7 linked regions of the Homo sapiens genome follow. The protein of the gene in region 3 purifies or fractionates together with the protein of the main gene of each other region. This does not show direct contact. Each region holds a gene or a part of one and is shown on either strand. Other genes may lie near its edges.

Region 1 (3,905 bases), on a different chromosome or scaffold from region 3:
TCTCCCGGATGGGCCACCCCCTCTCCCGGATGGGCCACCCTCCCAAGACCTGCCTGCGGGGTGCGCTGGTCCCGCCCCTGCCAGATGCGAGGAACATGGATGCAGGCCCAGAGGAAGTCCAGAGAGGCAGAGGGGTCGAACCTGTGGGGAGGCAAAGGTTCCAGAGCACGAGGTGTCTCGTCTCAGCATGGGAGATACCAGTCAGAGCCGGCGCTGGGAGATTTCTGGTGAAGGCCAGTATGCGCGCAGCCCAGGTTGGGGACAGGGAGGCGCCCACCTCTGTTCCCGGCTCTTGCCCAGCAGGACTCGGATGCACTGGTGCAGTGTGGGCCAGCTGGACTGATGCGTGAAGAGGGTCAGGAGGTAGGGACGGAACGAGGGCACCTGGGCCTGACCTTTGCCCTGGGGAGGGAGGAAGAAGCCCGGATGGCCTCACCTGGGCCAATGGCAGGCTCTGCTGAAGTCAGCTGACAGCTTCCCCAATGAGCCACTCAGAGAGCCGAGGCTTGGGGTGCTGCCGGTAACACCGGCCCCGTCATGGTGCTGGAGGGCCGCTCCTGGTGGCTGCGCTGCATCTCCCCGCCCCTTCCCACGGGAGCCATGCCACACAGCGGAGGTGCCCGGGGCTCCATGCAGCCTCTCTGGTGAGGCCGTCCCTCCCTGGAGGATGTGGGGAGCCCAGCACCTGCCCTCCCTTCTCCTGGCCACAGCCCCATTCCCTTTGGGAAGATGGAGGCCCCTACATGATCTACAGGGTTTGGCAGGGCCGACCCCACCCCATCCACCCACCCCATCCCCACATCTGGCTGGTCACAGTGCTGGTCCACAGGTGACTGTGACCCTGGCCTGGGTTCTGCTAGGGCCATTGGGGGACCTACCCTTCCTCTGGGTTGCTACAGGGACACATGGCCTGAGAGCAGGGGGGGTGCTGGGGCCCCTGCAAGGCTCGCCCAGGCCAAGGCTGCTGCACTTCAGGTCAGGAAGAGCCTTTACCCTGGGGTGGGTCCCCGTGCTGAAGCTGGGTGCCACCCACCTTCCTCCGGGAGAAGAGCAGCCTGAGCTGCAGGTCGGGGCAGCTGCTGACCACCTCGGGGTCCAGCATTTCCAGCCAGTCCACTAGGAGGCCTGACGAGGGCCCCAGCCGCACGGCCTCCAGGCTGCAGGGAGAAGGTGGCTCAGGGAAGGGCTGGTGCCACCCGCCTGCCCACCCTGGCCGTGTGCAGCACCCCAGCTCACCTGCCACCGTCCGCACCCGGCTTCCCCCCAGCCAGGGGCTCCTCCTCCTGCAGCAGCAGGGAGCTCACCACCACAACGGGCTTACAGGCTGGAAACGGGGAGGCAGCATCCGCAGTGGCAGAGAAGAATGCAGTCAGCAGCTCCTCCAGGTGGGGGGACCTCACCTCGATCAGCCCCTGGAGGACTGCGCAAGGGACAAAGAGACATGTGGGTCACTCCCAGGTCGGGTGGGGGCCGCTGAGTGGGTGTGGGCTAGCCAGGGTGGGGTGTGGGGTGAGCATGTGTGGGACACAAGAGCAGAGTCCAGCCGGAGCCAGAGAGGAGAGTGCAGCCGGGGCCGGAGAGGAGAGTGCGGCCGGGGCTGGAGAGTGCGGCCGGGGCCGGGGCTCACTTTGCTGGGTGCAGCAGTGATCAGGGGCCCCCCAAGGAGGAAGCTCCAACTCATTCTCAAGAGGCCCCGCCCTGAGCCATCTGGGAGGGGACCTCTGTGGGCACTTTCCGGGGACAGTGCTGAGCAGACACTGTCCGTCCCCCACTGGGCAGCTAGAAGGAGCCTCAGGTTTGGGTCTTCCCAGGGCCGCCGTGGCCCAAGAGGATGGTGCCAGGAAGGTACCTTTGCTGATCAGGTCCGGCTCCACGCTGCACTGCTCCCCAGACCTCAGGGTGGCGATGACGGCACGGACGGTGGAGCTGACCACCTCCAGGTCCTGACGGAAGGCCAGGGCCTCGGCCAGGCGCAGGAGCCCCCCTCGCACTGTGGGAGGTCTGTGTGAGTGCCCTGTGGCTCCAGCCCTCACCCCATCGGTGTATCCCATCCAGGGAGGCCCCACGGTAGAAGGGCTCCCCTGGGCCCACGCGGGTACCCACCCCCCAAGCCACTGCCCAGGCCTCGGGGTGCCAGGCAGCTTGGCCACTCTGAGTGAGCCCCTGTCCAGTGCCCCCCAGCCGTCTGCCAGCCCGGCGCGGTCCTCACCATCACTGAGCCTGCGCCCGGCTGAGGCCTGGCTGGCAAGCATCCTGAGCTGTGCCCGCAGGGGCCCGCCCTCCACGCCAGGGCTGTCCAGCCACTGCAGCATCTGCAGGAGCACCTTCAGGAAGAGCGAGGAGAAGCCGGTGTCCTGTGGCACACAGCGCTGCGGGGACAAAGTGGCACGTGGCTACCCTGGCAGAGGACACACGGGGACCCGGCACCCGAGGCCCAGAGCAGGGCCCGTGAGGCTGCTGAGACCTGCCGCGACCGGCACTTGGAGCCTGGGCCAACCTCATCCCGCCTCCTGTCTGAAACGGTGCCTCCCCTGCACGGGCCCAGACGACCTCACAGAGACCCTTTCAAAACCCCCCAGCTGGTGAGGGCTCCCACGCGGTTCAAAGGAAAAAGTAAACACAGACACCAAGTAAAACACAGTCCTAGGTACCAGCAGATGGGGAAAGCAAGGCAGGAGCGCCGAGCCTGGGTGGTGCAAACAGGCGGACGCCGCACTGCCCCCACCTCCCGTCCCGGGGGAATGTTCACTGGAAAAAGGGGACCTGCCGCCACTCCCTGGGGCACTGTCCTTTCTCACTTGGAAACTGAGACCCAAGACCCACAGAGGAGCAGTCACAGGACACCCGGGCCGTCCTGCGGGAGGCAGAGCCCTCACTGCCCTCCTCCCCCGCAAGAGGCCCACGCCCAAGTACCTGGTACTGGCAGAGCTGGCGCAGCAGCGGGCAGGCCAGGAAGTGGCTACGGTGCATGGACATCACCAGGGCACCGCCGTGTGGGGAGCTGAGCAGGGTGGCGAGGGCCTGCAGGACACGCACCGTGATGCCCGGCACCTCGGGGCTGCCCTGGACGACGCGGGCCAGCTCCTGGCCCAGGGCCTGCTGCAGGGCGAGGGCCACGGGGCGGGGACTGGAGCTCTGCCACCGAGGGTCCGGGCTGAGCGGGAAAATCTGGAACGGGGAAGGCCAGTGTCAGGAGGAAGCGGAGGAGAAGGAGGAGGAGCGCAGCGGAGAGGCTAAGCGCCCGGTGCAGCTCCGTGCCAGAACCGCGTCCCATCGTGTCCCTGTTCATTCGTAGCCCCCACCTTGTGGCCTGAGGGGCCCAGGGCCCTTGAGACCTGTGATGTGAAGCAGTGAGGGACCCCAACACCCAGGAGCTGCCCCAGAGAACAAAGGTGTCCAGAGCCTGCCCAGGGACCACCAGGCTCTCCATCAGGAGGTGGTGAGGCCTGCAGGATCCCCGGCTCCAACAGCCAGACCTCAGGCGAGACCTGCAACCTCAGCTTCTGTACACATCAAACCGGGTGCCCCGCGCAGAGGGGTGTGCAAGGATGGCAGGGAGGATGCAGGGCGACCCCCTTCCCCAATGTTGGCCTAGCCTCCATCTGAGAGCATGGGGGTGTTACGTGAAAGCAGCGTGCCAGGGTCAGGCGGTCACGCGTGTAAAGGCCGCTGTGCGTGTGCAGCGTGCCTGGGTCAGGCGGTCACGCAAGTAAAGGCCGCTGTGCGTGCGAGGCGGCAGCGAAGGCTGCACGCAGGAAGAGGGGCTGCAGGTGGAGACCCACATGCAGCAGCAACGCTACCTGGAGGAACATGCCAGCCAGGTCGTCCTCAGGGCCCAGCACCCGGAGCTGGGTCCCCACCCGAATCCGGCCCTGGCCTATGGGCTGCTCTGGGCTGCTCTTTGG
Region 2 (4,172 bases), on a different chromosome or scaffold from region 3:
TTGTTCTGTGCTGTGTTCCAACACCTAGCACCATGCCTGAGACTAAGAGCTACTTGGGAATGTTCCATGGGTGGATGGATGTTTCCATTTTCAGCAGCGTCTTCCCTTCCCTCATGTTGCCCAACTCCTTTCACTCCTACAAGATCCCAAGGCATCATCAGAAGACATTTTGTGTTTCTCAAACCTGCCTGATGATAAAAATAACTTTTCATGTAATATAGATTACCAGGCCTTTCTTTTGGAAATTCTGATTCAAAGTCTAGGTTGATGCCCAGGAATCTGTGTTTTTGACAAGCACTTCTGATGAGCCTTTTCTTCAGATGAACATTAAGATAAATAGGAGGGGCTCAGGTTTTCCCCACACAAGAATTAAAGAGCCATGGCCACTTGACCTGGTTTCTGAGGGGCTGTCAAAAGTTACCACCCTAAGCCTCTGGTCAGCAGTGCTGAGGGAATGAGGGACTAGAAGAGTCTTCTGGTCTACCTCTTAGTCACCTTGGCCCAGCCCTGTATCCTGGCTCCCACCTTCCTGAAAAGACGAGCCTAAGGGAAGGGGTGCTCAGAAGCCCCTCTACTTCTAGGACTGCCCACCTGGCTTCTTGCCCATTCTTTCCACAGACATGCTTTCTGTTCTGTCCCTTCTCCCAGCTGTCATGAGCACATGAATTCATGGTCCTCTCTGTTGGGTTTGGTAACGACCTCTGCCCCATTGGGTAGGAGTTGACTTTTGCATGCAGGGAGAGCCTGATTTCTCAGTCAATCCCCCATTACTGAACCAGAGTGGAAAGAGATGAGACTGGGAGGTGGGGGGAGCAGGGTGGGCCCAGGACAGGAGTCTGGATCTGGATAGTGTGTCTGGAGGGTAAAGCAGACTGGGCCAGTTCATGCCATTCCCGAGGCTGACAGGCTACCCAGGTGCTTGTGAGGTCCTCTTTGCAGCCATTTCTTAGTAAAAATCCTCCTGGTTCCTAACATCTGCTTCCAGCAGAATTTCTGTTTAACTCATGGAGAGTTCCATCCTAGGATCCCTGTGTACATGAAGAAGATGAGAGTGAGTTAAATGCTGTGTTTGGGGGAAGGAAGCCTTCCTTCCTTGATCTCTTGGATGAGTTGCAAAAACTCATCTTGCATCTGCAGTTTCCCTCCCTTAATACTCATTACCTCTATGATGGTTTCTTTAATGCGTATGCTCACCCCTGGGTGAAACCAAGGAAGAGCAATGCTTTGAAAGATGACAGGCAATGGAGCCGGTAGGTGTAGGGCATGATAAGGATACCTTGGGGACGGGACCACAAGGGACAGAGGCAGGGCAAGGTATAGGCCGAAGTTCAGGTGGACAGCAGGGGCGGCGTGCAGAACTACAGCTCTGAGGCCCTGCGGCCAGAAGGCTGGAGCTGAGGCAGCCTTTCCATTCATCTCTGAGGCTTTCCTCCACATTTTTCAGAAACAGGACCCCCATCTCCACCCCCAAGCAGGCTAGCCAGGGGCTTGTCAGTGTTGATGAGCGACTGTGCCAAGGGTGAGGAATGAAGGTACGGAGAGGAAATTAGCTAGTCATAGGTAGACGGTTGGTGTCTTGGAGCCTCCCGTGCCTCGGCTCAGGGGCAAAAGTTGTCCCTATCAGTATCATAAATGCCAAACCTTTCTCCGGCCTTGAGTTAGTTCTTAATGTGAATGCAGTAGTCTGGACTTCCACTCCACCCAGACTTTACTCCTGTCCTCTTCCCCACCCCAGGGTTGGCCAAAAGCACAACTTAAAGCCACTGATGGACAACGCCCTGTTTCTTGTCTTGCAGCCGTCTCCAACCTGGACATAGAGAGTAAGCTGAGTGTGTACTACCGCGCCCCGTGGCACCAGCAGCGCAACATCTTCCTCCCAGCCACAAGGCCACCCTGCGTGGAGGAGCTGCACCGCCACGCCCGGCAGAGCCTGCAAGCCCTGCGCAGAGGTGACAGATCCTGGGCTTGGGGGCTTTTGCGGGAGACAACTCGGAGGTTGTCCCATCCAGGTGTCCTCTGTCCCATCAGCCCCAACACACCCCCTTATTATAGCAAGTACTTTGAAATGCTCCCGTTTCTACCCTGAAATGAAATCCATGGGTAATATGCCCAACCCATACACATAAGAAAAAATAATATTATGGTCTAAATATGATAATAAAGAGAAATTAAAAGGAAATTATTGATAATAATATCTATTTCAATATGCAAATGCTCAGGCATGACCTCACTAGAAGACATCATGAAGCAGTCAGATGTCTGCACTTGTCAAAAGCAAGTCTGGATTAAGTACAGACCTTCAGAAACTATTCCGAGGGGCAGGAGGGCATGACCATAAAAACTGGTACATTCAGTATATATTAGATATGGGCAAAAAATAAATACTTTGGATTAGAATGAAAAGGGAATTTGGCTTGACTCATAAATAGGCACTAGGTTTTTCCCCTATAAGAGATTCTGATGGAACATTTAAAATTGTGTGAGACCTGGGACACATTTTCATTGACCATCCTCTGCATTATGGGATGGCTGTCATCTTTGGCTCCCATCCAATCATTGTAACAATTAGAATGATCCCCTAGAGGGCTCTTCTGCTTCTCTTGAGAACCAGTGATCGGTCTAATGCCCCCATTCTTTAGTGGGACACGCGGAGGCCTAGAAAGGTGAGGAAACTTGCTCAGGGTCACACATAGCAGGTTAGGTGTGGTACCAGGACCCAACCTAAGCCTCTGAAATGCCTGCCAGAGCTCTTTTCCTCCTTGCCATACACTGTGTCTCATGGAAATAGGTACTGATGTTTACATGTCTCTCACAGTCCTGAGAAAGCTAGAGATAGGCTCATAGCAGTCAAAATAGGAATACAGTTTTTTCTTACACTGGTTGCTTTTCAGTGCCTTAAAACCATTCTAATTAGGACAAGGGGAATAAAAAGTAGCTTCATTGTTTTAGAGCCCCCTAAATTGGGTATCAGAAGGGGACATGTCAGCTTTTTTTGGCCTTTAGATTCTTGCTATGGAGATAGATGGTGTCTACACATTCAATGTCTTTCTTCCAAATTCCCTACACTCTTTTAAGAAATGGCATTTTGCAAAAGTATTAAAATGCAAGTAAAATATTTTAATGTCATTATCAAAGTGGAGAAACAAAATGGTGATATTGTTTTCATCTTATTTATTCCACATTTGTATAACTCCTGCCTTTTCCCCATCCTTATCTTCAATAGTTTGTTGCCTTCAATTATCATCTTTTTTCCCTCCTCATCTTTTTTCCCTTCCTCATCTTTTTTTCCTTTTAATGAAAGAGCTAACCTCCTAATATCCCTAAAGCAATTGTTTCTAAAAATTTTCCTTGGTTATTAGGGGAAGACATTGTGACACTTACAATGAAGAGTGATGATCAGTATCCTGTAGAAGCATCTTTGGCATACTTACCATTCACTTCAATTTTATAGTTGGCTAAGAAGTTCTTTTTTAACTTAAGCCACCTTCTGAAAATCTTTCTTTCCACACTTGCCATTCCTTTGCAGCCTGGATTAGGCACCCTTCCCATAATATCCTGTGCATCCTCCCATCCTGCCACTTAGAATCTTATAATCAACCACTATGGGCCTGTTTTACCAACCAACCACTAATAAGCCATTAATCTATGAGCAACTCAAGGGCAAGGATGATATCTTATTAATTTATTTTATTCAAAGCACTTAGCATGAAGCTGACATATAGTAGGTCCTCAATGAACATTTGTGGAACTGAATCAAGTTTTGCAAAAAACTGGTTGAACATTGAGGGCACAGGATGACTATAAAGGAATCTGATCGTTCTCACCAAATCCTTTCTCAGGTCCCATCATTAGAAATCTTGGGTAACATTAGCCCTTTAGGTATAATTATTTTTATCCCTTTATTTTATTAATAAGTCATCCCTGATTAGGATTTTATGGATTCCACCAGATAACACCAAGCTGCTCGTAAACTATCACATTTCACTGCTTTGTCAGGTTTAGACTTAAAGCAGAACTGAAGAACAGCAAGTGCCGATATCAATTTTCTCTGAACTTCCTCCTGTGGGGCGGTGAGAGAGGGATGTGGGGCCTCCTGGGGTTTGGAAGGAAGACTGTGGAGATGCGTTTTACCCTCCACAGACTGGCTTGTTTTGCGGTTGGCTCAATAGCAT
Region 3 (3,007 bases):
CAGGAAGGGCGACGTTGGACCTCGGCGATGCTGACTTCTCATCCTCACCCGCAGTGCCCGTCAACAGCGACACAATGGACTGGCTCGTGGACCGAGGTCTTCGTCTGGATTCCAAGTACTCCACCAACTCGACGGAGGCACCTGGTGGTTTCTCCTTGGATCCAAAGGACCACCGCAGAGGCATGGTCTTGAATGGTCCCTGCTTGGCTCGGGAAGTGGTGGGTGCCTTCATGCTAATGCTTCTGCCTTTCACGCCCCGTACCAAACGCCTGGGCTCCAACCCTCCTGAAAGAGACAGAGAGACTGTCAGTGTACAAGCCACCCTACAGCTGAAATGCCAGTCATCTAACGTTCACTGAGCACCTCTGATGTGGGAGGCACTGTGCTGGGCACTGGAGACACAGCAGTGAAGAAGCCACATAGGGTTCCTGCCTTTGGGGAACAGCAACGGTTTCACCCACTCTTCCTCAATATCCACTTACACGTTTGAAGCCACAGGGTAAGCCAGTGCCAAAGAAGGTATCTACATGCCGGGCAGCACAGACACCTGGCAAAGCTCAGTCTCACGGGCATCTAGCCTTAAGAATGAACATCAGTTTCATCTATCTTTAAATATTCCTATGAAACGGAATGCCCAGCAAAAGTTCCTGCTTTTCTAGGTCATATTAGGTCCTTGTACCTTTCAAATGCAAGAATCTCAGATATCCTACCCTGGGCTAAAAAAGAAAAAAAAAATGGAATTAAAAAAATATGGTGAAAACCACAATTACTTTTGCACCAACCTATACAACTTGTAAAAATATATACACGTGCATGTATTATGCATGCATGTGAAAACATACAAATAAGAATAGAGAAATAGATGCCAAAAACAAGGTGTGGATAGGGCCATGGCAGTGCTGTTTGTGATGGATTTTTTTTCTTAATTCTTTCCTATATCTCCACATTTCTAAAAGGAACATATGTACAACCAAGGTTGTGTATTTTTGCTTAAGAAATTCTCAGTCTTGGGAGGCTGAGGCAGGTGGGTCACAAGGTCAGGAGTTCGAGACCAGCCTGACCAACATGGTGAAACCCCATCTCTACTAAAATACAAAAATTAGCTGGGCGTGGTGGCACATGCCTATAATCCCAGCTACTCAGGAGGCTGAGGCAGGAGAATCACTTGAACCCGGGAGGTGGAGGTGGAGGTTGCAGTGAGCTGAGATCATGCCACTGCACTCCAGCCTGGGTGACAGAGCAAGACTCCATCTCCAAAAAAAAAAAGAAAGAAATTCTCAGTCATCAGTCACTGTACCATTAAAATGCCTTGTTTTACATGATGTCTGCAATCATTGAGAAAGAAATCTTCAGCTAAAACACACAATCCACCTGGCGCAACTGAAACACACAACCTACATGGCGCAAGGACAGTCACACACATTTGGAGAAAGGTTGCAGGGTGACCTCTGAAGTCTGCCCCACGGGTGGCCACTCTCACTGTGCCACTTCATCATAGTGTTTGAGGGTGCTATGGACTGAAGGTTTGTGTCCCCTGAGATTCATACATTGAAGCTCTAGTCCCCAAGGCGATGGTTTAAGGGGGTGATGCTGCTGGGTGGTAATTAGGTCTTGAGGGTAGAGCCCTCGTGAATGGGATTAGTGACCTTCTAAGAAGAGGTTGAAGAGCTACCCAGCTCTCTTCCTGCCATGTGAGGACACATGAAGCTGTCTGCAGCCGGGAAGAACCTCTCCAGGGCCCCATCATGCTGGCACCCTGATCTCAGACTTCCAGCCTGCAGGACTGTGGGGAAGAAATGTCTGTTGTGGATAAGCTGCCCAGGCGTGGTATTCTGTTCTAACAGCCTGAATGAACAATGAAACAGAGAAGCTCCAAAAGGGAGCAGAACTCCTGCCATAAAAAGCCCCCTGTCAGCGGCACAGCCAACACGATGTGTGACACAGAGAAGGGCCAGAGATTGTCAGGTGCACGGGTGAGAGCTCAGGAAAGGCAAAAGAATGAGGTGCAGGGGAGTGAATGCTGCAGGAACGCGGGGGAGGCAAAGTGCACATCGACCAAGCACCCCTGGAGAAATGGCTGGAGCAGGAAGAAGCCGAAAGCCCATGACCTCCAAAAGGAGTTAGAAAGCATCTCAAGGATGTGACTTTCCAGGTTTCTCATAAAGAATGTTTGATTTTTTCTTTCCTCAAAGCATTTCTTTAGATTAGCCAGTCATAGACACAATTTTACCCAAAATACTCTGTAATTTTGGTTTAGATTGACCTTATTAAATTCCCAGCCCTCGGGGGGTGGGGAAGAAATGTTCTGGGGTCTGAGATGTGTGTGAAGTTTATTTCTTTTTTTCTCTTCCACAGCCCTGGGAAGGGCAGAAAGGGACGCTTTGTATTAGTAGGACAAAGCTGTGACTTTTAGCCTTTCAAAATGAGAGCATGTTGCCTGGAGCCCCGGCAGGTGGCGAGAGGAGTTGGCAGCTGCCCGAAATAGCAGTTCTTCCTTTCTTCCTGGTAGGAAAGTCTCTGAGGCCAGGGCTGACATCAACGCCTGAGCTACATTTCATGGGAACCACAGATGCCCACGGAACTCGTGTCTCCTCTTTCTCGAGATGGCAGTGAAAAAGTACCCCTGTTATCTTTATTCTCCTTCCATTTATTGGGCTAGGATAACAGGATCTGAGACAGTGATGGCTTTAATAAAATTGAGAAATAAGCAGCATAAGAACAGAAGGGAATAAGAGGCCCCCACGCTCACATCACACTTCCTCTCTACAAAGTCACTTCCCGTCTAGGGTGGGTGCAAGTCCTGGTACCCCTCCCCCGGGGAGATGGGCAAAACTTCTGGGATGCTGGGAGACAGATGCTGAACACAGTGGTGTTCAGAGACCCCTGGGCACTAACTCTGGTTCAACTCCCGCCCCACCCCACCCCGAGAAGATTCTGTTTCCAGCCAGTCTGAGCCTAGAGCCTTACACTGCATTAAAGACACAGGCCGTTAGGTTCTTCCTGAAGG
Region 4 (4,093 bases), on a different chromosome or scaffold from region 3:
TGTGGAACTGTATGAGTATTTTAAGATTATGGAGTAAAGTAAGTTTTAAAAAGCAGTCCCTAATCATCAAAAGTAAAAAACTCTTGATGTAGTCATATAACCACACTAAGAACTCTTCCAGGTGACTTCAAAACATAGGACAGTACATCTCTAGTAGAATATGCCCTGAGAATGAAAAGAATGTAACAGTGTTAGTATTTTGAATAAACATGTTATTACTAGACTGTTGCTTTTATTTTGAGATGGTTGTGTGTGTATTGGGGGGAAAGGAAACGAGTAATTATGTTGGTGTTACTGAGAACTGAGATGTTGGGCGTAGGAGGAAGATAATGTTGATTGTGTCTACGTACCATTTCTCTCTAAAAGGAACTCCAGGCTCTTTGGAGAGGTGGTTGATTCCAGAACTAGGTCAGGAAACGTTCATATAATGTGGGAACATGGTCATATCAAAGATTAAGGATAAGGATTACTAGGGCCATGTCAGAACTCAAGCAACATGAAAAGGCTCCTGCTTGCAAAAGATGGACAGTTTGAACATCCACAAGGACGCTAACTGCATCAGATATGTTTAATGGGTTCAAAATGATACTTTAAAAAAACTCAGTAATCATCTTTATAGGATACTTGGGAACAGACTCATTTTCAAATTGGTAAATAAAAGGAAAGAGTTTGCCTTCGAGGGGTACATAACTTAATTATGAATGAAGTGATATGTGTGGAATTTACTTCAGAGTAATGGAGGTGGAAGTGGCAGAGAAAGGAAACACTGGACTTGATAGTGTTGAAACTGATTAATGATATGTGGCGGTTCATTATAGTATTTCCACTTTTCTGTATGTCCAAAATTTTCTAAAATAAAAGGAGAATTGAATAGAAAAATGCTTCCTGGAGGTAGCTGTGTCTTACCTGAGACTTGGCAGGAGGCAGTAGGGCCTGAGGGAACAGCATTTACAGTGTCCTAACGGTTATACTGAAACTTTCCACGTATACTTGATGGAACATCAATCTGAAGGCATCCTACACTTCCTCCATCAGACCTGATGGTGCAAGTGAACACCATCAGTGCCTTTCCAGTTTCATCAAAGCAGTTATTTTAGCTTCTCTGACCCAAGGTATATCAGTTCTATTTTAACGTACATTACAAAGACTAATGGTTATACTTAGAGACACGGGTCTGTTGGGGACAGCAGTGGCTTAGGGTGGCTGTAATCCCAGGAAGGAATGTGGAGAAGGAAATGAACATTTTTTTTTTTGAGACGGAGTCTCACTCTGTCGCCCAGGCTGGAGTGCAATGTCACCATCTCGGTTCACTGCAGCCTCTGCCTCCCAGGTTCAAGTGACTCTCCTGCCTCAGCCTCCCGAGTAGCTGGGATTACAGGCACCTACCACCACGTCTGGCTAATTTTTATATTTTTAGTAGATACGGGATTTCACCATGTTGGCCAGGCTGGTCTTGAACTCCTGACCTCAGGTGATCTGCCCGCCTCGGCCTCCCAAAGTACTGGGATTACAGGCGTGAGCCACTGCTCCAGGCCAGAAATGAACACTTGATGACTGAGTGAGTGAGCCTACCAGCTGAGGATACTAATGATAAGGGCTCACATTTGTTGGGTGTCCTGTGATGTGCTGGGCAGTCCTAAGCCCTTGACCATTCTGTTATTTTGAAGCTTTAAGGAGATGCACTAAATGGAAGTCCATATAATAGAGTTGGATGGAGTACCTGGAAATTCAGATGGTCCAACTTGAATGAGTGAATAAATAGGGAAAGCTATCTGATTAAAAGTGGGTCCCCTCTCCATGTGTGAATTGTCAAGTTGTGGGGATTACTCCTGTTTTTCATAATAGTTACGTTGATTTTTCAGGTGAAGCACTTGAGGAAGAACTGGATTCCATGGCAAAACATGAATCCAGGGAAGATAAAATTTTTCAGAAGTTTAAAACTCAGATAGCCCTTGAACCAGAACAGGTAAAGTGGAGCTCATAGCTCCTCATCGTGTTCTCTTCAGGCCATGTTTTATGAGTATAATCTGTAAGAAATAACTTCATAGTAACATTAGTCTGTTCCTTAGGAGCCTATAAAAGCAGGCTTTTGTTATCTTGTTAGAGGAGTTCCTCACACAGATGGGCCATGTAGAAAGGTGTTTTGCAGTGCTGATCCATTTAATAGTTACTAAAAGACTAAAGGTTATACTGTTTATCATACAGGGTTCATTTTCTAAAGCAAGCATCAGGGATGGGAGATGAATGAGATGTTGCCTAAGGTACATGAGGTTTAGGCACCATTGGCCCCCCCGCCAGAAAGAAAAAAGGTTATTTTTGCCCATTTCCAACAGGTAACTTTGGCTTGTAAAATGTGACATGTTAACATTTTTCTCCTTAACCTCCCCTACCATAAACGTAAATCACGAAAGAAAACTAAACTCCCATAAACCAGTCACTGGTTCAAATAAATACACAGGAAGAATAGATCTAGGTCTTAAACACTAAGGCAGTTTTTAGCAATGCATATGCTTTTAGACAAAATACAGAAAACCACTCAGTTGCTGTAGGAAGCTTATTACAGTGAAATTTACTTATGTTTGTAGTAGTTTTCAAAACACTATGTTTCACTTGGTATTTGTCCCTCCTAAAATTTTTTAACTATGAAGGTAGGCACAGACTCTGGGCAGAATTCTGCAATTAGAGCAGAGGCTCATTCTTAGTCCCTTCACAATATATTCATAGGATTAAGTTGCCAACATTAGGTAGTAAAAGCATCATCTGGGAGATATATTTTGATGCCCTCTGAGTCAGATAAACTGAAATAATCACTTTGAGGTGATTGAGAAGGCATTAGTGGCACACTGGTACAGCCAGGTCTGATGGGGGAACTGTGACATGCCTTTTGGGTCAGTGCTACATCAAGAGTAGGAACATTCATGGAGTAGATAGCATGTTACCATTGGCAACTTATAGGTAAGGTATTGATTATTTGAACATGATCTTCATTGATTTTAGATTCTTAGATATGGCAGAGGTATTGCCCCCATCTGGATTTCTGGTGAAAATATTCCTCAAGAAAAGGATATTCCAGATTGCCCCTGTGGTGCCAAGAGAATATTGGAATTCCAGGTATGACCTTAAATAAGGACCATTTAGTGTGTAATCACCATGATTGTTTTTAAACATTAAAAACTTCACCAAGGTAATTTGTGCACATGGGTCAACATGGCAGTATGGAAGGGTACCCTATAATGAAAATCATCAGTTTCCTGCCTCACCTTGGGGCTAGTTCCCTGGAAGGAACTGTCTTGTTTTTTTCTGTTTCCTAGTTTTCAGACACGGTCTATTGACTGACTTCTGTGACAATGAGGATATCTACACTGCTCTCCACCTCCAGTGTGGTTATGTCATTATTATTAGTGCCTCTGTTAACTTTTGTTATTTTAAATAATGTATACCTTCCTTTCTTGTTCTAGTAATTAAAGTCTTTGACTATATACTTTATGAGAGGAGTCTTTACTGTTTAATCTTGGTTTGTGGATTTGTTAGAAAAAATGGATATAAGCATTAAAGATAAATGTCCTTCCCTGCCCAAAAGGATTTGTTAGCATCAAAATCCATTTGGGTAGGGTGGAAATGCTCTTGAGCTATGGATTCACTAACCTTACCAAAGTCATAGCTAATATTGGTTTGTTTCTTTGGGTAAAAAAGGAATTATGAGGACCATACACAAAACTCTGCTTGGTTCTTAGTGCCAAAGCTCTCAATGTCCAAATTGAGGTGACAGGATTTGTATAAAGTGATTCCATATCAGGTGGCTATTCTGCCTATTCACTCTTTGAGTTAGACTACTTCTAAGATTCCTCTCTGGTCTCTATAACTACATTGATAGATGTCCTTTCTGTATTCATTACTAGTAATTAGTGTTTCTTGAGTCAAGAGTAACAACATCTGCAATGATACAAAGTAAAAGTTGCCCAAATAGAAGCCTCAGCCCTTTTGAGTGGCATATTAGTAATGAAAATAATTCATTAACAGCCACTTGTGAACTTCTTTCTCAAATGGAAAAGACCAAACAGAAGGTGAGAGGGGCTTTGAAGTCATAAGGAAG
Region 5 (4,172 bases), on a different chromosome or scaffold from region 3:
GCAGGAGAATCACTTGAACCCAGGAGGTGGAGGTTGTGGTGAGCCAAGATTGGGCCACTGCACTACAGCCTAGGCAAGAGAGTGAGACTCCGTCTGTGTGTGTGTGTGTTGGGAGGGGGGTGGGGTGGGGGGGAAGAGTCACAAATTTCAGCCCTAGGCCCTGACCTTAGGGGAGGTAAGGGACAGATTGAGCCCAGTGACCAGCGGACAATAATTTACTCAATTATGTATTTATGTAATGAAAGCTCAATGAAAACTCTTGAATAATGAGGTTTGGGGAGCTTCTAGATTGTTGAACATACTGATATGCTGGGAAGGTGCTGCACCAGAGGATACAGAAGCCCTTTCACACCTTGCCCTATGTCTCCTCCATTTGGCTGTTTCTGAGTTGTGTCCTTTATAAAACTGAAATTGCTTAAGAACAGTCTTTCCTGAGTACTGTGAGCCGTTCTTGGAAAGCTGCAGGAATCCCATAATTTGTAGTCAGCTGAGCAGAAATGCAGATGCTCTGCGAACTCTGACTGACTTGGGGGCAGGCAGTCTTGTGAAACGGAGCCCCTTAATGTATGGGGGTCTGAGCAACATCTGGGCAGTGTCAGAATTAAAATAATTGTAGTACACCCAGTTGGTGTAGAATTTTTGCTGGAGAAATTAAGTTCTAATAAAGGAGTTTTATTATGTTCAATAAATCTGTTGAATATTAACTATACATTTCCTCCGCAAAACAGGAAACTGCACATTACTTATAAAAGATTATCCTTTTCAACAAAATCACTACAACCCTTTAAGAGATCACCAAAAGCTTTTGGGCTTCTTTATATTTAACAAATAGCACAAATATCATAGGAAGGCTGCGTAGAAAGGAGCCCAATTCTAACTCCCAATCCACTAATCTCTCCATGACCCTAAGCATTCAGTAAAAATTATTCCAACCAAAATATGATTGTAGGAGAAACTTTCAGGATTAAAGGCAAAATGTTTAACCTGATCACTAGCTTTTCCTGCAGCCTTTAGTTCTTAGGGCAAATATCTCATTTAGGAACACATAATTCAAATATTTATTGAACATCTTTTTATGACACTGTGTGAAGTATGAAGCATAATTTAAAAATGCATATTACTTGCTTTCTTTATAAGTGGCACATGCAACACAGCTGCAAGATATTACCTAGATAAAACTCAAATACAAAACAGTAGGTGGGAACTGGTAAATTGGATGTAATAGAGACTAAGTGCAAATTAAATTCAGATGCATTCAACAGAACACTGCTTCAAAACAGTATGGTAAAGGAAGGTCTTTATTAGTGCTGAAATCGATACTGGGTCTTGTAGATTGACATGTATTCTGATAGGCAAGCTAGAAATGGATATAAAAGGCAATTATTTCCAGGTTAATGAATACATCAGTTTAGCTGAAAAAAAGAGTTTGTGTACACATGTTGAGGAAATAAAATTGGAGAAGTCAAGGTCCAATGGTGGAGGAACATGATGTACAGCTCTGAGCAGTGCAATCAATGCAACAGTTCCAAACTAAATATCAATACGATCGTCAACAAATGTAGAAAAGCATTCAATAAAATTCAACATCCAGCCATTATTTTTTAAAAAACTTACTTCCTTATGATAATATGAAGTTTTACAAGAAAAGATGGCAAACATACTTAATGGTGGAAAACTTGAAATATTCCTTTTAAAATCAGGAGTAAGACAAAGATACCTACATCAATTCTGGTCAACATTGTACTTCATTTCCCTAGTCTGCACACTAAGAAAAAAAAAAAGAATAACAGCTATTAAGATTGAAAAGGAAGAATCCCAATTTCGTATCATGACTAAATAGAACAAAACAAAAAATCCTCAATTATGAGAATTAAGTCTGGAAGATTGCTGAGTAAAATAGATATGTAAGAGTCAGTAATTTTATATATTAGAAAATGCAACTTATGAAAATATATATCACACAATTAAAAACTAGAAATAAACTGAACAATATACAAGACATGAAATTATACAAGTACTGAAAAATGTTAAAGTTCTAAATAAATGGAGTAACATAACATTCAGACAGAAGGGTCAATATCCTAAACGTATCAGTTACACCCAAATTAAGCTAGAAATTCAATAAAATCTAAACCAAAATTCCAACAGCAGGTTCCAGAATTTCTACTGAAGAAAAGCAAAGGACCAACAATAGCTAATATTTCTCTTGAGTAACAAGGAGGTAAATGACCCCCCCACCTCCAAGTGGGTATCTAAGTAGGAGAGACAAATACAACAAAGGGACAAAGAGCCAGGTAACACACCCATACACATATGGAAATGAACATATTGCAAACCATTGGGGATAGGATGAATTTTCAACAAGTAGTGTGGGGACAATTGTGTATTTTAAGTAAAACCGTTACACTGGATCCCTATCTCACAGCATACAAATTAATTTCAAGTAAATTAAGGACATAAAAGGCTTCAACTTTAAAATAAGTAGGAAAAAAATATAGAAGAATACAACCAAGGCCTTGGAGAAAGGAAGAATTTCTTAAACAGAAATCACTAATTATAAAAAGACTAACAAATTTTACATTAAAAGTAACAACAACTATTAATCGAAAGATATCAAAGACCAGCCAAGATGTCTCTGGAACAGTCTTAACAGACAAAAACAGGCAAAGGACATGAACAGGTATTTCACAGAAGAACACACACACACACACTAGTAAAGGTTTGAAAAAAACAGGGTGCATACTCACCAATGATAAGAGGTGCACAAATCAGAAAATAGGATACCATTTCACACACACAGCAAAAATTTACAAGTGGGACGATACCATCCATTTAAGAGGACATAAAATAAAGAGGGTTGTTGGTATAATCACTTGGTAAAACAATTTAGTATGACCGAGTAAAGCTGAAGACGCACATACTCTGTGAACCAGATAATTCATTCAGTTATATTTGCTGAACGATTTTCTCTCTCTTCTTTCTTGAAAATGATACGGGTTGAGTCACAGTACATATTCCATGACCCACTACTGAGCTGTAATCCAGAGCCCAGCCTCTGGTCTGGAAAAAAAAAAGAAAAATCACTGCCCTAGAGTTGCCCCTTGCAAACTTTTTCTCTCAGGACCCCTTTACACTCTAAAAGATCTAGTGAAAAGAATGGCACTATTTTACATTTCTGCAGATCTCTTTAATGTTTGCTTTAAAAAAAGAATGCTGGATTCTCTTATCTAGTTCTGCATTCGCTCTGTTGGATATGTTATTTTGTTTGACTTATTAAAGATCTAGTCTACCACAAACGTGGTCATTACAGAAGGATCTTGTAGACTCTGAGAGGGTCTTGGAGATCTCCAAGGGTTGTGAGACCATACTTCGAGAACTGCACTCTAGAGAAACATTTGCCATGTACAGCATATAACAATGAATACAAGATTGTTTCTAATATCTGGCAAACAAATGAACAGCAAAACCCATTAAATCCAAAGCCCATTAAGATACTGTCATTTACTAGCTAGAGAACTTTGACTCAACCTCTCTGTGCCTCATTTTGCTCATTTGAAAAAGGAAATATTAATGCCAATCTCAGAAGGTTATTGTGAGGATTAAATGAGTTAATGCATGAAAAGGGTCTTTAAGGATTATGCCTTGCCAGGTAGTCCTATATAAATACCATACATTATAATCTTAAAATACGTGGTAGTGGGTGGGTGTGGGAAGGAGAAAGAAGACACAGAGGAACATGAAGGTATTCATTTTATTATTCTCAAAAAGTAAATCTTATATTTAATATTATAAAATGTATGATAGCCATAAAACATTTTTAAGGGAAATTAATATGGAGCTACTGTGCAGCTTGGTCGAAGGACCAAAAGTCAGAGGGACAAATCAAGAGATTAGGTCATTAATCACCAAGGTTATTGTGAAAATATTACAAGGCTGACATGAAAGACATTCTTGTGTATTTCAACACAATGCTGCCCATACCTCCATATGGAATTAATTTCATTATGCCCAATCATAGTTGCTTTCCTGCCTTTTCCACCAGTCGAAGTTTATCAATTCCAGAGCAATCACTCAATAAACGTTACCTAGAACCTAACTGAAACCTATCGCCCTACTTCCATGCTGTTCACATTTGAGATTTACATGGTCACTGCTTCCCAAAGACGGTTATT
Region 6 (4,172 bases), on a different chromosome or scaffold from region 3:
TGGAGCTGAAGTCATGGCAGGTGTGTTCCAGGCTCCATGATGCACATGTGAGGTGGGGGAACACACAAATGAGTGAAGGGAAACCTCTGCCCCAGTGACGTCCCGATCCGGGGGATGTGGGACCATGCGTGTGCCTTTTTGTTCTAGACAGAGCCGAGGGCTGGCCAGGCCTGGGAGTTGTCTGGGACGCTGGCTTTTAGAGCATGGGCTCTGGGCTAAAATTGCATGGGTTCAAATCCTAGTTCAGTCTCTTACCAGCTGTGGGATCTTAAGCAAGCCATTTAACCCTTTAGCTTCTCTGTAAAATGAAGTTATACCACCTTCGCCATAGAGGCACGGTAAACATTCATGAGACTTACGTAAAGGCTACAAACAGGGCCTGGCATGCAGGAATTACACAAGAAATATCTGCCACCATATTCTTGTGGTTGCTGTGGTCAAGCCTTTGTTTATGAGGAATCCGCTATCTGCCCAGCACCAGGCAGGGCTTGGGGCTCACAGACAGCATTCTCTTTTTTTTATTTTTATTTTTTGAGATGGAGTCTCTGTCTGTCACCCAGACTGGAGTGCAGTGGTGCAATCTCAGCTTACTGGAACTTCCACCTCCGAATTCAAGCAATTCTCCAGCCTCCTGAGTAGCTGAGATTACATGCGCCCACCACCACACCCAGCTAATTTTTGTATTTTCAGTAGAGACAGGGTTTTGCCATGTTGGGCAGGCTGGTCTCAAACTCCTGACCTCAGGTGATCCGCCCGCCTTGGCCTCCCACAGTGCTGAGATTACAGGTGTGAGCCACCGCCCCCAGCCTAGCTCTCTCTTGACCCTGGAGGATCCCGCCCAGGCCCTGCAGAGGGCCCTTGAGCCAGCTGGCAGCCGGGCTGGCCCTCACTCACCTCGCCACCCTGCAGCAGCACCATCTGGTTCTTCAGGTCTATCCCCACTACTAGCCCCTGCCGGAAGTTGTCCTTGAAAGTCACCGAGTAAGAAATGAATGTCTTTTTGGCGAACCCTGGGGAAGGGACACAGAAGAGGTCATAGGGCAGAGCCAGGCTGCCCACGGGAAGCCAGAGTGACTCAGAACCTTTCACGAGCTGCAAACCAACAGGGGTGCCCTTGACCAAAGCGTCGGGCCATTAGGTATGCCTGGGGTACCCCTACTTCCTAAAATGCCAATCTGGGCCTCAGACCGTCAGAAAAGCTCAAGCTTTTACTTCTAGGGTCTCATTGTGGTGGCTACTTAAGACCAAAGACCTTGAGCTTCTCCAGAACTTGTCTGACAGTGGAATGCAGGCACTTGGCCCTAAATGGAGAAAACCACCCCCAGCCCTAAAATCAAGCCCCAGAGCAGAGACAAGACCCCCCTCACAGAGACAGCCCCAGACGGGAGCACATTACCTGTCTCCACGGAGGCTCGGAGAGCAGCCACATTGTGGTGGAAGGAGTCCTTCATGTCCACCAGCATGAAGGGGACGTTCAGGGCCTGCAGCTGGCTGGCTGCTGCGATCCCGCCAAAGCCCCCACCCACAATCACCACGTGCAGAGCTCCCGATTCCACCGAGACCTGGGACCCCATCTCAAATCAGGCACTGCTGGGAAGAAAGAGGAGAGCATATCAGAGTCAGGGAGGCTGGGAGGGCTGGGAGGACCCACAGTGAGAGAGGCCTCGATCATGAATTGACCTTTTTAGATGAGGTAAATCTTTGATTAATGAAACTCCAATTTTATAAAATTTGAATTAAATTCAGAAGGAACAAGGGGGTATCCCACTTCCAGCCCATTCCCCAAACACCAAGTTCCCTTCTCCAGAGGCATCCACTGTTACGTAACAAGTTTGGATGACTCCTTCCAGAGATAGTTTATGCAACTATAATCACGATTATTTTTTGCACCCATTAAACAAAGTGTTCTGCACATTTGTTTTTTACTTGATATATTCCATCAAAGACTTTTGGGAGAGATTGCAGTGGGGCAGGAGGAAAAAAAAGACTTTTGAAGAGGGGAATAATGTTCACTCAACAACATATATGAATTGAACTCCTGCTTTTTGACATGCTCTGTGTTGTGTATCCTGTGGTCAGACAGGCAGATATGGTCCCTGCCCTTATAAGGGCAGACCTTACAAAGTCAAAGAACCAGGTGGGCAATGTCAATGATGTGAGAAGCTGGGAAAAGGTGCAATAACAAGAAACAGTGGGCACACCTGTGGGGAACCAGCAAGCATAGGCCACATCTAAAGGAACAACAAAAAACATTCTTTAAGCACTGCACTAAACAAACACCGCAACCAGATTCAGCCCAGCTCACAGGTCACCAACTTAAGGTCCAGGTCTAAGGAGGTCAATTAGCAGGTTACGACAAGAATCCTGCAAAATTCTGCTTCTAGGGTTTGAATATGTCTCCCAAAAAGGAACAGTGTTAAGAGGTGGGGCCTAATCGGAGGTGTTTGGGTCATACGGTCTCCACCCTCATGAATGGATTAATACCAATTATAAAAGGGCTTTGAGGCTGCAAGTTCAAGCTCTTCCTCTCTCTCGCTCTCTCTTTTGCCTTCCACCATGGGATGACTCAGCATGAAGGCCCTCACCAGACACTGGGCCCTTGATCTTGGACTTCCCAGCCTCCAGAACCATGAGCCAATACATTTCTGTTCATTATAATTACCTAGTCTGTAGTATTCTGCTGTAGCAGCAGAAAACAGACTAAGACAAATGTGGTGTGAACTAAGACTGTGATCATGGAGTAGGAAGGAGGGGCCACAACCATATGCTACAATGCCTGGCTAATTTTTTAATTACTTGTAGAGATGGGGCTGGGTGTAGCAGCTCACGCCTGTAATCCCAGCACTTTGGGAGGCTGAGGAAGGAGGATCTTTTGAGCCCAGGAGTTCCAGACCAGCCTGGGTAACATAGAGAGACTCTGTCTCTACAAAAAAAAAAAAAAAAAAAAAAAAAAAAAAAAAAGCCAGGCGTGGTGATGGGCACCTATAGGCCCCGCTAATTGGGAGGCCGAGGTGGGAGGATCACTTGAGCCAGGGAGGTCAAGGCTGCAGTGAGCCGTAACTATGCCACTGCACACCAGCCTGGGCCACAGAGTGAGACCCCATCTCAAAAAAATAAAACAATAAAAATAATAAATATTGGTAGAGATGGGGGTCTCCTTTTGTTGCCCAGGCTGGTCTCAAACTCCTGGGCTCAAGTGATCCTCCCACCTCAACCTCCCAAAGTGCTGGGATTACAGGCATGAACCACTGCACCCAGTCCCCATTTCTTTGTATGACCTCAAGATGGTATATAAGCTTCTGTACCTCTTTTGGGGGTCGGGTCTTCCTTCTGAAGGCTCCTGTGTATACACACATTAAATAAATTTATATTTTTATATTTGTATAAAGTTGCCTTTTATCCAACTCAACAGCCTTGGGCCCTACAGCAGCAAAGTTGCCTGGGCTCCCCAAGCCAGCCTGGAAGGCTGGTAAACAGGGTTACCTGTGCATCCCAGAGTCTGCCCCAGACAGAGGAGGGCCCAGGGGCTGGCCTGGGGCTGCACCAGAGGCCTTGCCTCCAGCCCAGCAGAACCCCAAATTAGGATGCTTGCAGTGTGGGCCTCAGGCAGGCAGAGGGCTGCTGGTGTGGGAGGAGCCGCACAGCCCATTGAGGGGCACTCTTGACTGCAGCTGAGACCCTGAGAGGTGACAAGCAATCAACCCTCCTCCTGGCCTGTGCTGAGCCCTAAAGAGAGGCAGAAATAAGCCAGGCTGCTGGGGGGAGATGCTGAGAAAAAGAAACAAAACTCACACTATACAGAAAGCAGCCCCAGAGGCTCAACAGCTGCTGTGGGCTTCAGGAAGGGGGACTGGAGCGGGTGTCAGCGAAGGAGGAAGTAGACTCTGAGGTCAACCTTGAAGGATAGACATCAAGCCACTGAACAGCCTCATAAGGAAGTGTGTTCCAGCTCATCTGGGACCCTCAGGCCGCTGGAAGGCCACTGCACTGCCCTGATCATCTTTGCGGGTCTGGGGCACAACCCCTTCCCTCTCTAGGCCTCAATTTACCCCCTATAATGGGAGGGGACTATAAGGCCCAACCAGCTATAATATCCTGAGCTGTCCTCGTACACACTGGTTTCCAAGACATGGTGGTGGTTCCCCAAGACGGTCCCCAAATCATCCCACACT
Region 7 (4,172 bases), on a different chromosome or scaffold from region 3:
GATCCGCTTGCCTCAGCCTCCCAAAGTGCTGGGATTACAGGCGTGAGCCACCACGCCTGGCCCTGACGTTTCTTTAAGACAGGTTTTTAACCTAAAAAATTTGTTCTGAAGTCTGGGTGCGGTGGTTCACGCATGTAATCCCAGCACTTTGGGAGGCCGAGGTGGGTGGATCACCTGAGGTCAGGAGTTCGAGACCAGCCTGGACAAAATGGTGAAACCCCGTCTCTACTAAAAATACGAAAATTAGCCGGGTGTGGTGGCGGGTGCCTGTAATCCCAGTTACTCGGGAGGCTGAGGCAGGAGAATCGCTTGAACCCAGGAGGCAGAGGTTGCAGTGAGCCAAGATCACACCACTGCACTCCAGCCTGGGTGACAGAGCGAAATTCTGTCTCAAAATAAATAAATAAATTTGTTCTGCAGAACCCTTTGGCATCTGGTTAAATCTGTGAACCCCTTCACAGAATATTTTTAAAAGTATATACATACACATACACACACACACAATTACAATGGAAGCCAATTACATTGAATTACAATTATTACTATATATTAAATTGAAACAAAATTGAGATGCAGTAATATATGGGCTTTTTAATTAATACATCAACTTACAGGATCTGCTATCATTCCAAGAGGTGACAAATATGAACAATACTTCAAGATGCCCTTTTTATGTTACATTACAGTTGCTGTAACTGGTTTGTATTGGTGGGAAAATCCCAGGTACTGCTTTTACTACTGTGATTTGTTGCCAGCATTTATAACTTGGGAGTAAGGCTAAATTTCAGTTTCATTGCTGAAAATAAAGATGTAACATTTTCTTCCATCAAGTTCATGGTTACCCCTGGCTTCTATCCAGGTTAAGAATCCCTGCCTTTAGGGAAAATTCTGGACATAATCAGGACACTCCTGAAGAGGTTTAAAGAAGAGGTAAGACCTCACTCAAGAATTCCCACTGCAGTACAGACAGACTTTCATGGTTTCTTTCCTTGTTGTCTTCAGGGTTGTTGCAGATCCCTCCTCAGGGCTTGTTTGTCCAGGCCTCGTTGATGAGATGATATTTTGAAAACAAGTTCATCAACAAGTTCCGGTTTTCCTGACATTGAGCAGTTTCTGAGTTGTATCAGTTTGCCAGCTAACCAAAAGTCAAAGAAAGTTTTTTTGTTTTGTTTTGTTTTTTTAGAGACAGGGTCTTGCTCTGTCACCCAGGCTGGAGTGCAGTGGAGCTCCATCATAGCTCACGACAACCTTAACCTCCCAAGCTCAAGTGATCCTCCCACCTCAGCCTCCCAAGTAGCTGGGATTACAGGCAGGAATGTGCCACCACACCTAGCTAACTCTGCTGCTAACATTTTTGTGACATTTCCTCCTTTTATGGTGAACCATGACATATAGAAAATGCATAAAACCTATATATGTTCAGTTTAATGAATAACTACAAGGTGTTATTTGGTGTAATTGCAGGATGTTCACTGTCATTGTTGTACAGTTCTCCACGGTGAATGTACCACGATTTAATGGGCATATACTATAGATAGTGCTGCTAGCAACACTCTAGGACTCATTTCCTTTTTTTTGAGATGGAGTCTGACTCTGTCACCCAGGCTGGAGTGCAGTGGCACGATCTCAGCTCACTGCAACCTCCACCTCCCAGGTTCAAGTGATTCTCCTGCCTCAGCCTCCTGAGTAGCTGGGATTACAGGTGCCCGCCACCATGCCCGGTTAATTTTTGTATTTTTAGTAGAGATGGGGTTTTGCCATGTTGGTCAGGCTGGTCTTGAACTCCTGACCTCAGGTGATCCACCCACCTCGGCCTCCCAAAGTGCTGGGATTACAGGCGTTGAGCCACGGCACCCGGCCTCTAGGACTCATTTCTTAGGAGTGGAACTGGCACACATGCAGCTTTAGTAGGTAATGCCTAAGTTTCCACAGTGGCTGCACCATTTTACCTTCCCAGTAGCATGTACGAGGCTTTCAATTGCTGCATATCCTTTCAAATACTTAGTGTTGTTGATATTTTGAGTTTTCACTTGTATTTTCCTGATGAGCAGCTTTTCATGTGCTTACTGGCCACTCTCATGTTTTTCCTTATTGATTTACAGGACCCTTTAAATATTAAAAACTGTAAATCTCTTTCACACAATGATTTGCTGTTTCAATTTTTTCTTAAGGTGGCTTCTTGTGGCCAGGTGTGGTGGCTCAGGCCTGTAATCCCAGCACTTTGGGAGGCCTGAGGCAGGCAGATTTTGTGAGGTCAGGAGTTTGAGACCAGCCTGGCCAACATGGTGAAACCCCGTCTCTACTAAAAATACAAAAATTAGCCGGGTGAGGTGGGAGCACACGTCTGTAATCCCAGCTACTCAGGAGGCTGAGGCAGGAGAATCTCTTGAACCCGGGAGGCGGAGGTTGGAGTGAGCTGAGATAGTGCCACTGCACTCCACCCAGCCTGGGCGACAGAGCGAGACTCTGTTCTCAAAACAAAACAAAAAACAAAACAAAAAAGGCCAGGTGTGGTGGCTCACACCTGTAATCCCAACACTTTGGGAGGCCGAGGCAGGTGGATCACCTGAGGTCACGAGTTTGAGACCAGTCTGGTCAACATGGCAAAACCCCATCTCTACTAAAAATACAAAAATTAGCCATGCATAGTGGCGGGCACTGTAATCCCAGCTATTTGGGAGGCTGAGGCAGGAGAATCGCTTGAACTTGGTAGATGGAGGTTGCCGTGAGCTGAGATCATGCCACTGCACTCCAGCCTGGGTAACAGAGTAAGACTCTGTCTCAAGAAAAAAAAAAAGGTGGCTTTTTGTGATGGCTGACTTAGTCTGAATAACCTGCTATGCCATTGTCAGAAAGGGCCATCCTCTAACATCGTGGTTTTAGAACATTTGGCTATGGATAAACTTTCCTCCCATACCACGTGCAGTTCCACCTTTGGGACATGCCTATTTCCTTTACCCAGAATGCTCTTCCCTCAGATAAACACATGGCTTCCCTCCGGCAGTGCCTTCAGGTCTTTGCTCAAACATTACCTCTGAGGAATGTCTGAGGCCTTCTATGACAACCCTTTTAAAAAGTGCAAACTGGCTGGGCGCAGTGGCTCATGCCTGTAATCCTGGTACTTTGGGAGGCCGAGGATGGCAGATCGCTCGAGCCCAGTAGATCGAGACCAGCCTGGGCAACATGGCAAAACTCCATCTCCCCTAAAAATACAAAAATTTGCTAGGCATGGTGGTACATGCCTGTAGTCCCAGCTACTTGAGAGGCTGAGGTGGGAGGATTTTTTGAGCCCGGGAAATCACACCACTGAACTCCAGCCTGGGCGACAGAGTGAGACCTTGTCTCAAAACAAAAACACCAAAAGATGAAAACTGCCATGCCTAGAATTCCTGATTCTCTTCACCCTGCTTTACTTTTTTCTATTTTTTATATCCCATATTACTCTTATATATTATATATATTGCAAGATATGTAAATTGAGAAATGCAAGCTATATAGTATATATGTGTATGTAAACTCTTGCACTTACAGACTGTTTTGATTGTTGCCTCTTTTCCAAACTGGAAGTACTGTGAGAGCCAAGATATTTCTGTTTTGCTCCCTGCTCTATCTCCAAACCTAGAACAACACCTGACATACAGTATGTGCTCAATAAATGTTTACTGAATGCCTCAAATGTAAAATGCTTAAAGCAGTTCCTGGCATACAACAACAGATGTTTAGAAAAGGGTTTGTTGATTAAAATCTTATCAGTTGACATAAAAATTTCAAAGGTGAAATTTTACTGAGGTTTTTCATAAAGGTTGCCCTTACTCAAACTCTTAGATAACAAGGCAAACTTACCGTAATGGGTTAAGGTGAACAACTCATTTCATTGTCTTCCATCTACCCAAGAAAAAGAAAAGTGACTCACATATTTGGCGAAACTTTTCCATTCATTATGCTTGGCTTTACCAATTTTTTATAGCTATTGGGAGGCAGGAAAGGGAATTTTGGCCCCAGAAACCATGAGATTTGGGTCAGAAAAAGGCACACGGGGAAGGGGTCAAGGCAGGCTGAGAGTCACATTTCCAGACCTCAGGGGCCAGCAGGGTGTGGCACTGAGGGGCGGCCAGGGGCTGGGGAAACGTGTCCACTCTGCTGATGGGGCAGTCCTGGGGGCGGATCTCCTT

What was found.
Region 1: the proteins of USP43 (region 3) and INTS1 purify together in Homo sapiens (affinity purification with mass spectrometry, with the first as the bait; one large-scale study listed by BioGRID). This does not show direct contact.
Region 2: the proteins of USP43 (region 3) and NHS purify together in Homo sapiens (affinity purification with mass spectrometry; one large-scale study listed by BioGRID and IntAct). This does not show direct contact.
Region 4: the proteins of USP43 (region 3) and PDCD2 purify together in Homo sapiens (affinity purification with mass spectrometry; one large-scale study listed by BioGRID and IntAct). This does not show direct contact.
Region 5: the proteins of USP43 (region 3) and CEP57 purify together in Homo sapiens (affinity purification with mass spectrometry, with the first as the bait; one large-scale study listed by BioGRID). This does not show direct contact.
Region 6: the proteins of USP43 (region 3) and AIFM2 purify together in Homo sapiens (affinity purification with western blotting, with the first as the bait; one study listed by BioGRID). This does not show direct contact.
Region 7: the proteins of USP43 (region 3) and FTSJ1 purify together in Homo sapiens (affinity purification with mass spectrometry; one large-scale study listed by BioGRID and IntAct). This does not show direct contact.

The regions. Positions count from the first base shown.
Region 1 is NC_000007.14:1,476,517-1,480,421, forward strand, and holds part of INTS1 (integrator complex subunit 1), read right to left. Parts: coding exon 3,801-3,905; intron 3,169-3,800; coding exon 2,914-3,168; intron 2,370-2,913; coding exon 2,210-2,369; intron 1,991-2,209; coding exon 1,850-1,990; intron 1,421-1,849; coding exon 1,237-1,420; intron 1,158-1,236; coding exon 1,034-1,157; intron 403-1,033; coding exon 278-402; intron 142-277; coding exon 54-141; intron 1-53. UniProt on the Homo sapiens protein: Component of the integrator complex, a multiprotein complex that terminates RNA polymerase II (Pol II) transcription in the promoter-proximal region of genes.
Region 2 is NC_000023.11:17,685,946-17,690,117, forward strand, and holds part of NHS (actin remodeling regulator NHS), read left to right. Parts: intron 1-1,796; coding exon 1,797-1,949; intron 1,950-4,172. UniProt on the Homo sapiens protein: May function in cell morphology by maintaining the integrity of the circumferential actin ring and controlling lamellipod formation. Involved in the regulation eye, tooth, brain and craniofacial development.
Region 3 is NC_000017.11:9,725,232-9,728,238, reverse strand, and holds part of USP43 (ubiquitin carboxyl-terminal hydrolase 43), read right to left. Parts: intron 286-3,007; coding exon 1-285. UniProt on the Homo sapiens protein: May recognize and hydrolyze the peptide bond at the C-terminal Gly of ubiquitin. Involved in the processing of poly-ubiquitin precursors as well as that of ubiquitinated proteins.
Region 4 is NC_000006.12:170,577,875-170,581,967, reverse strand, and holds part of PDCD2 (programmed cell death protein 2), read left to right. Parts: exon of another isoform or gene 1-879; intron 880-1,862; coding exon 1,863-1,966; intron 1,967-2,997; coding exon 2,998-3,111; exon of another isoform or gene 3,112-3,188; intron 3,189-3,311; coding exon of another isoform or gene 3,312-3,332; exon of another isoform or gene 3,333-3,486; intron 3,487-4,093.
Region 5 is NC_000011.10:95,793,109-95,797,280, reverse strand, and holds part of CEP57 (centrosomal protein of 57 kDa), read right to left. Parts: intron 3,061-4,172; exon of another isoform or gene 2,748-3,060; intron 1,766-2,747; exon of another isoform or gene 1,740-1,765; coding exon of another isoform or gene 1,722-1,739; intron 1-1,721. UniProt on the Homo sapiens protein: Centrosomal protein which may be required for microtubule attachment to centrosomes. May act by forming ring-like structures around microtubules. Mediates nuclear translocation and mitogenic activity of the internalized growth factor FGF2, but that of FGF1.
Region 6 is NC_000010.11:70,122,511-70,126,682, forward strand, and holds part of AIFM2 (ferroptosis suppressor protein 1), read right to left. Parts: intron 1,591-4,172; exon of another isoform or gene 1,588-1,590; 5' UTR 1,575-1,587; coding exon 1,397-1,574; intron 1,011-1,396; coding exon 895-1,010; intron 1-894. UniProt on the Homo sapiens protein: A NAD(P)H-dependent oxidoreductase that acts as a key inhibitor of ferroptosis.
Region 7 is NC_000023.11:48,482,699-48,486,870, reverse strand, and holds the end of FTSJ1 (tRNA (cytidine(32)/guanosine(34)-2'-O)-methyltransferase), read right to left. Parts: coding exon 4,077-4,172; coding exon of another isoform or gene 4,020-4,076; exon of another isoform or gene 3,917-4,019; intron 3,886-3,916; coding exon 3,853-3,885; 3' UTR 3,844-3,852; intron 3,631-3,843; exon of another isoform or gene 3,530-3,630; intron 1,136-3,529; 3' UTR 521-1,135; downstream 1-520. UniProt on the Homo sapiens protein: Methylates the 2'-O-ribose of nucleotides at positions 32 and 34 of the tRNA anticodon loop of substrate tRNAs. Requisite for faithful cytoplasmic translation.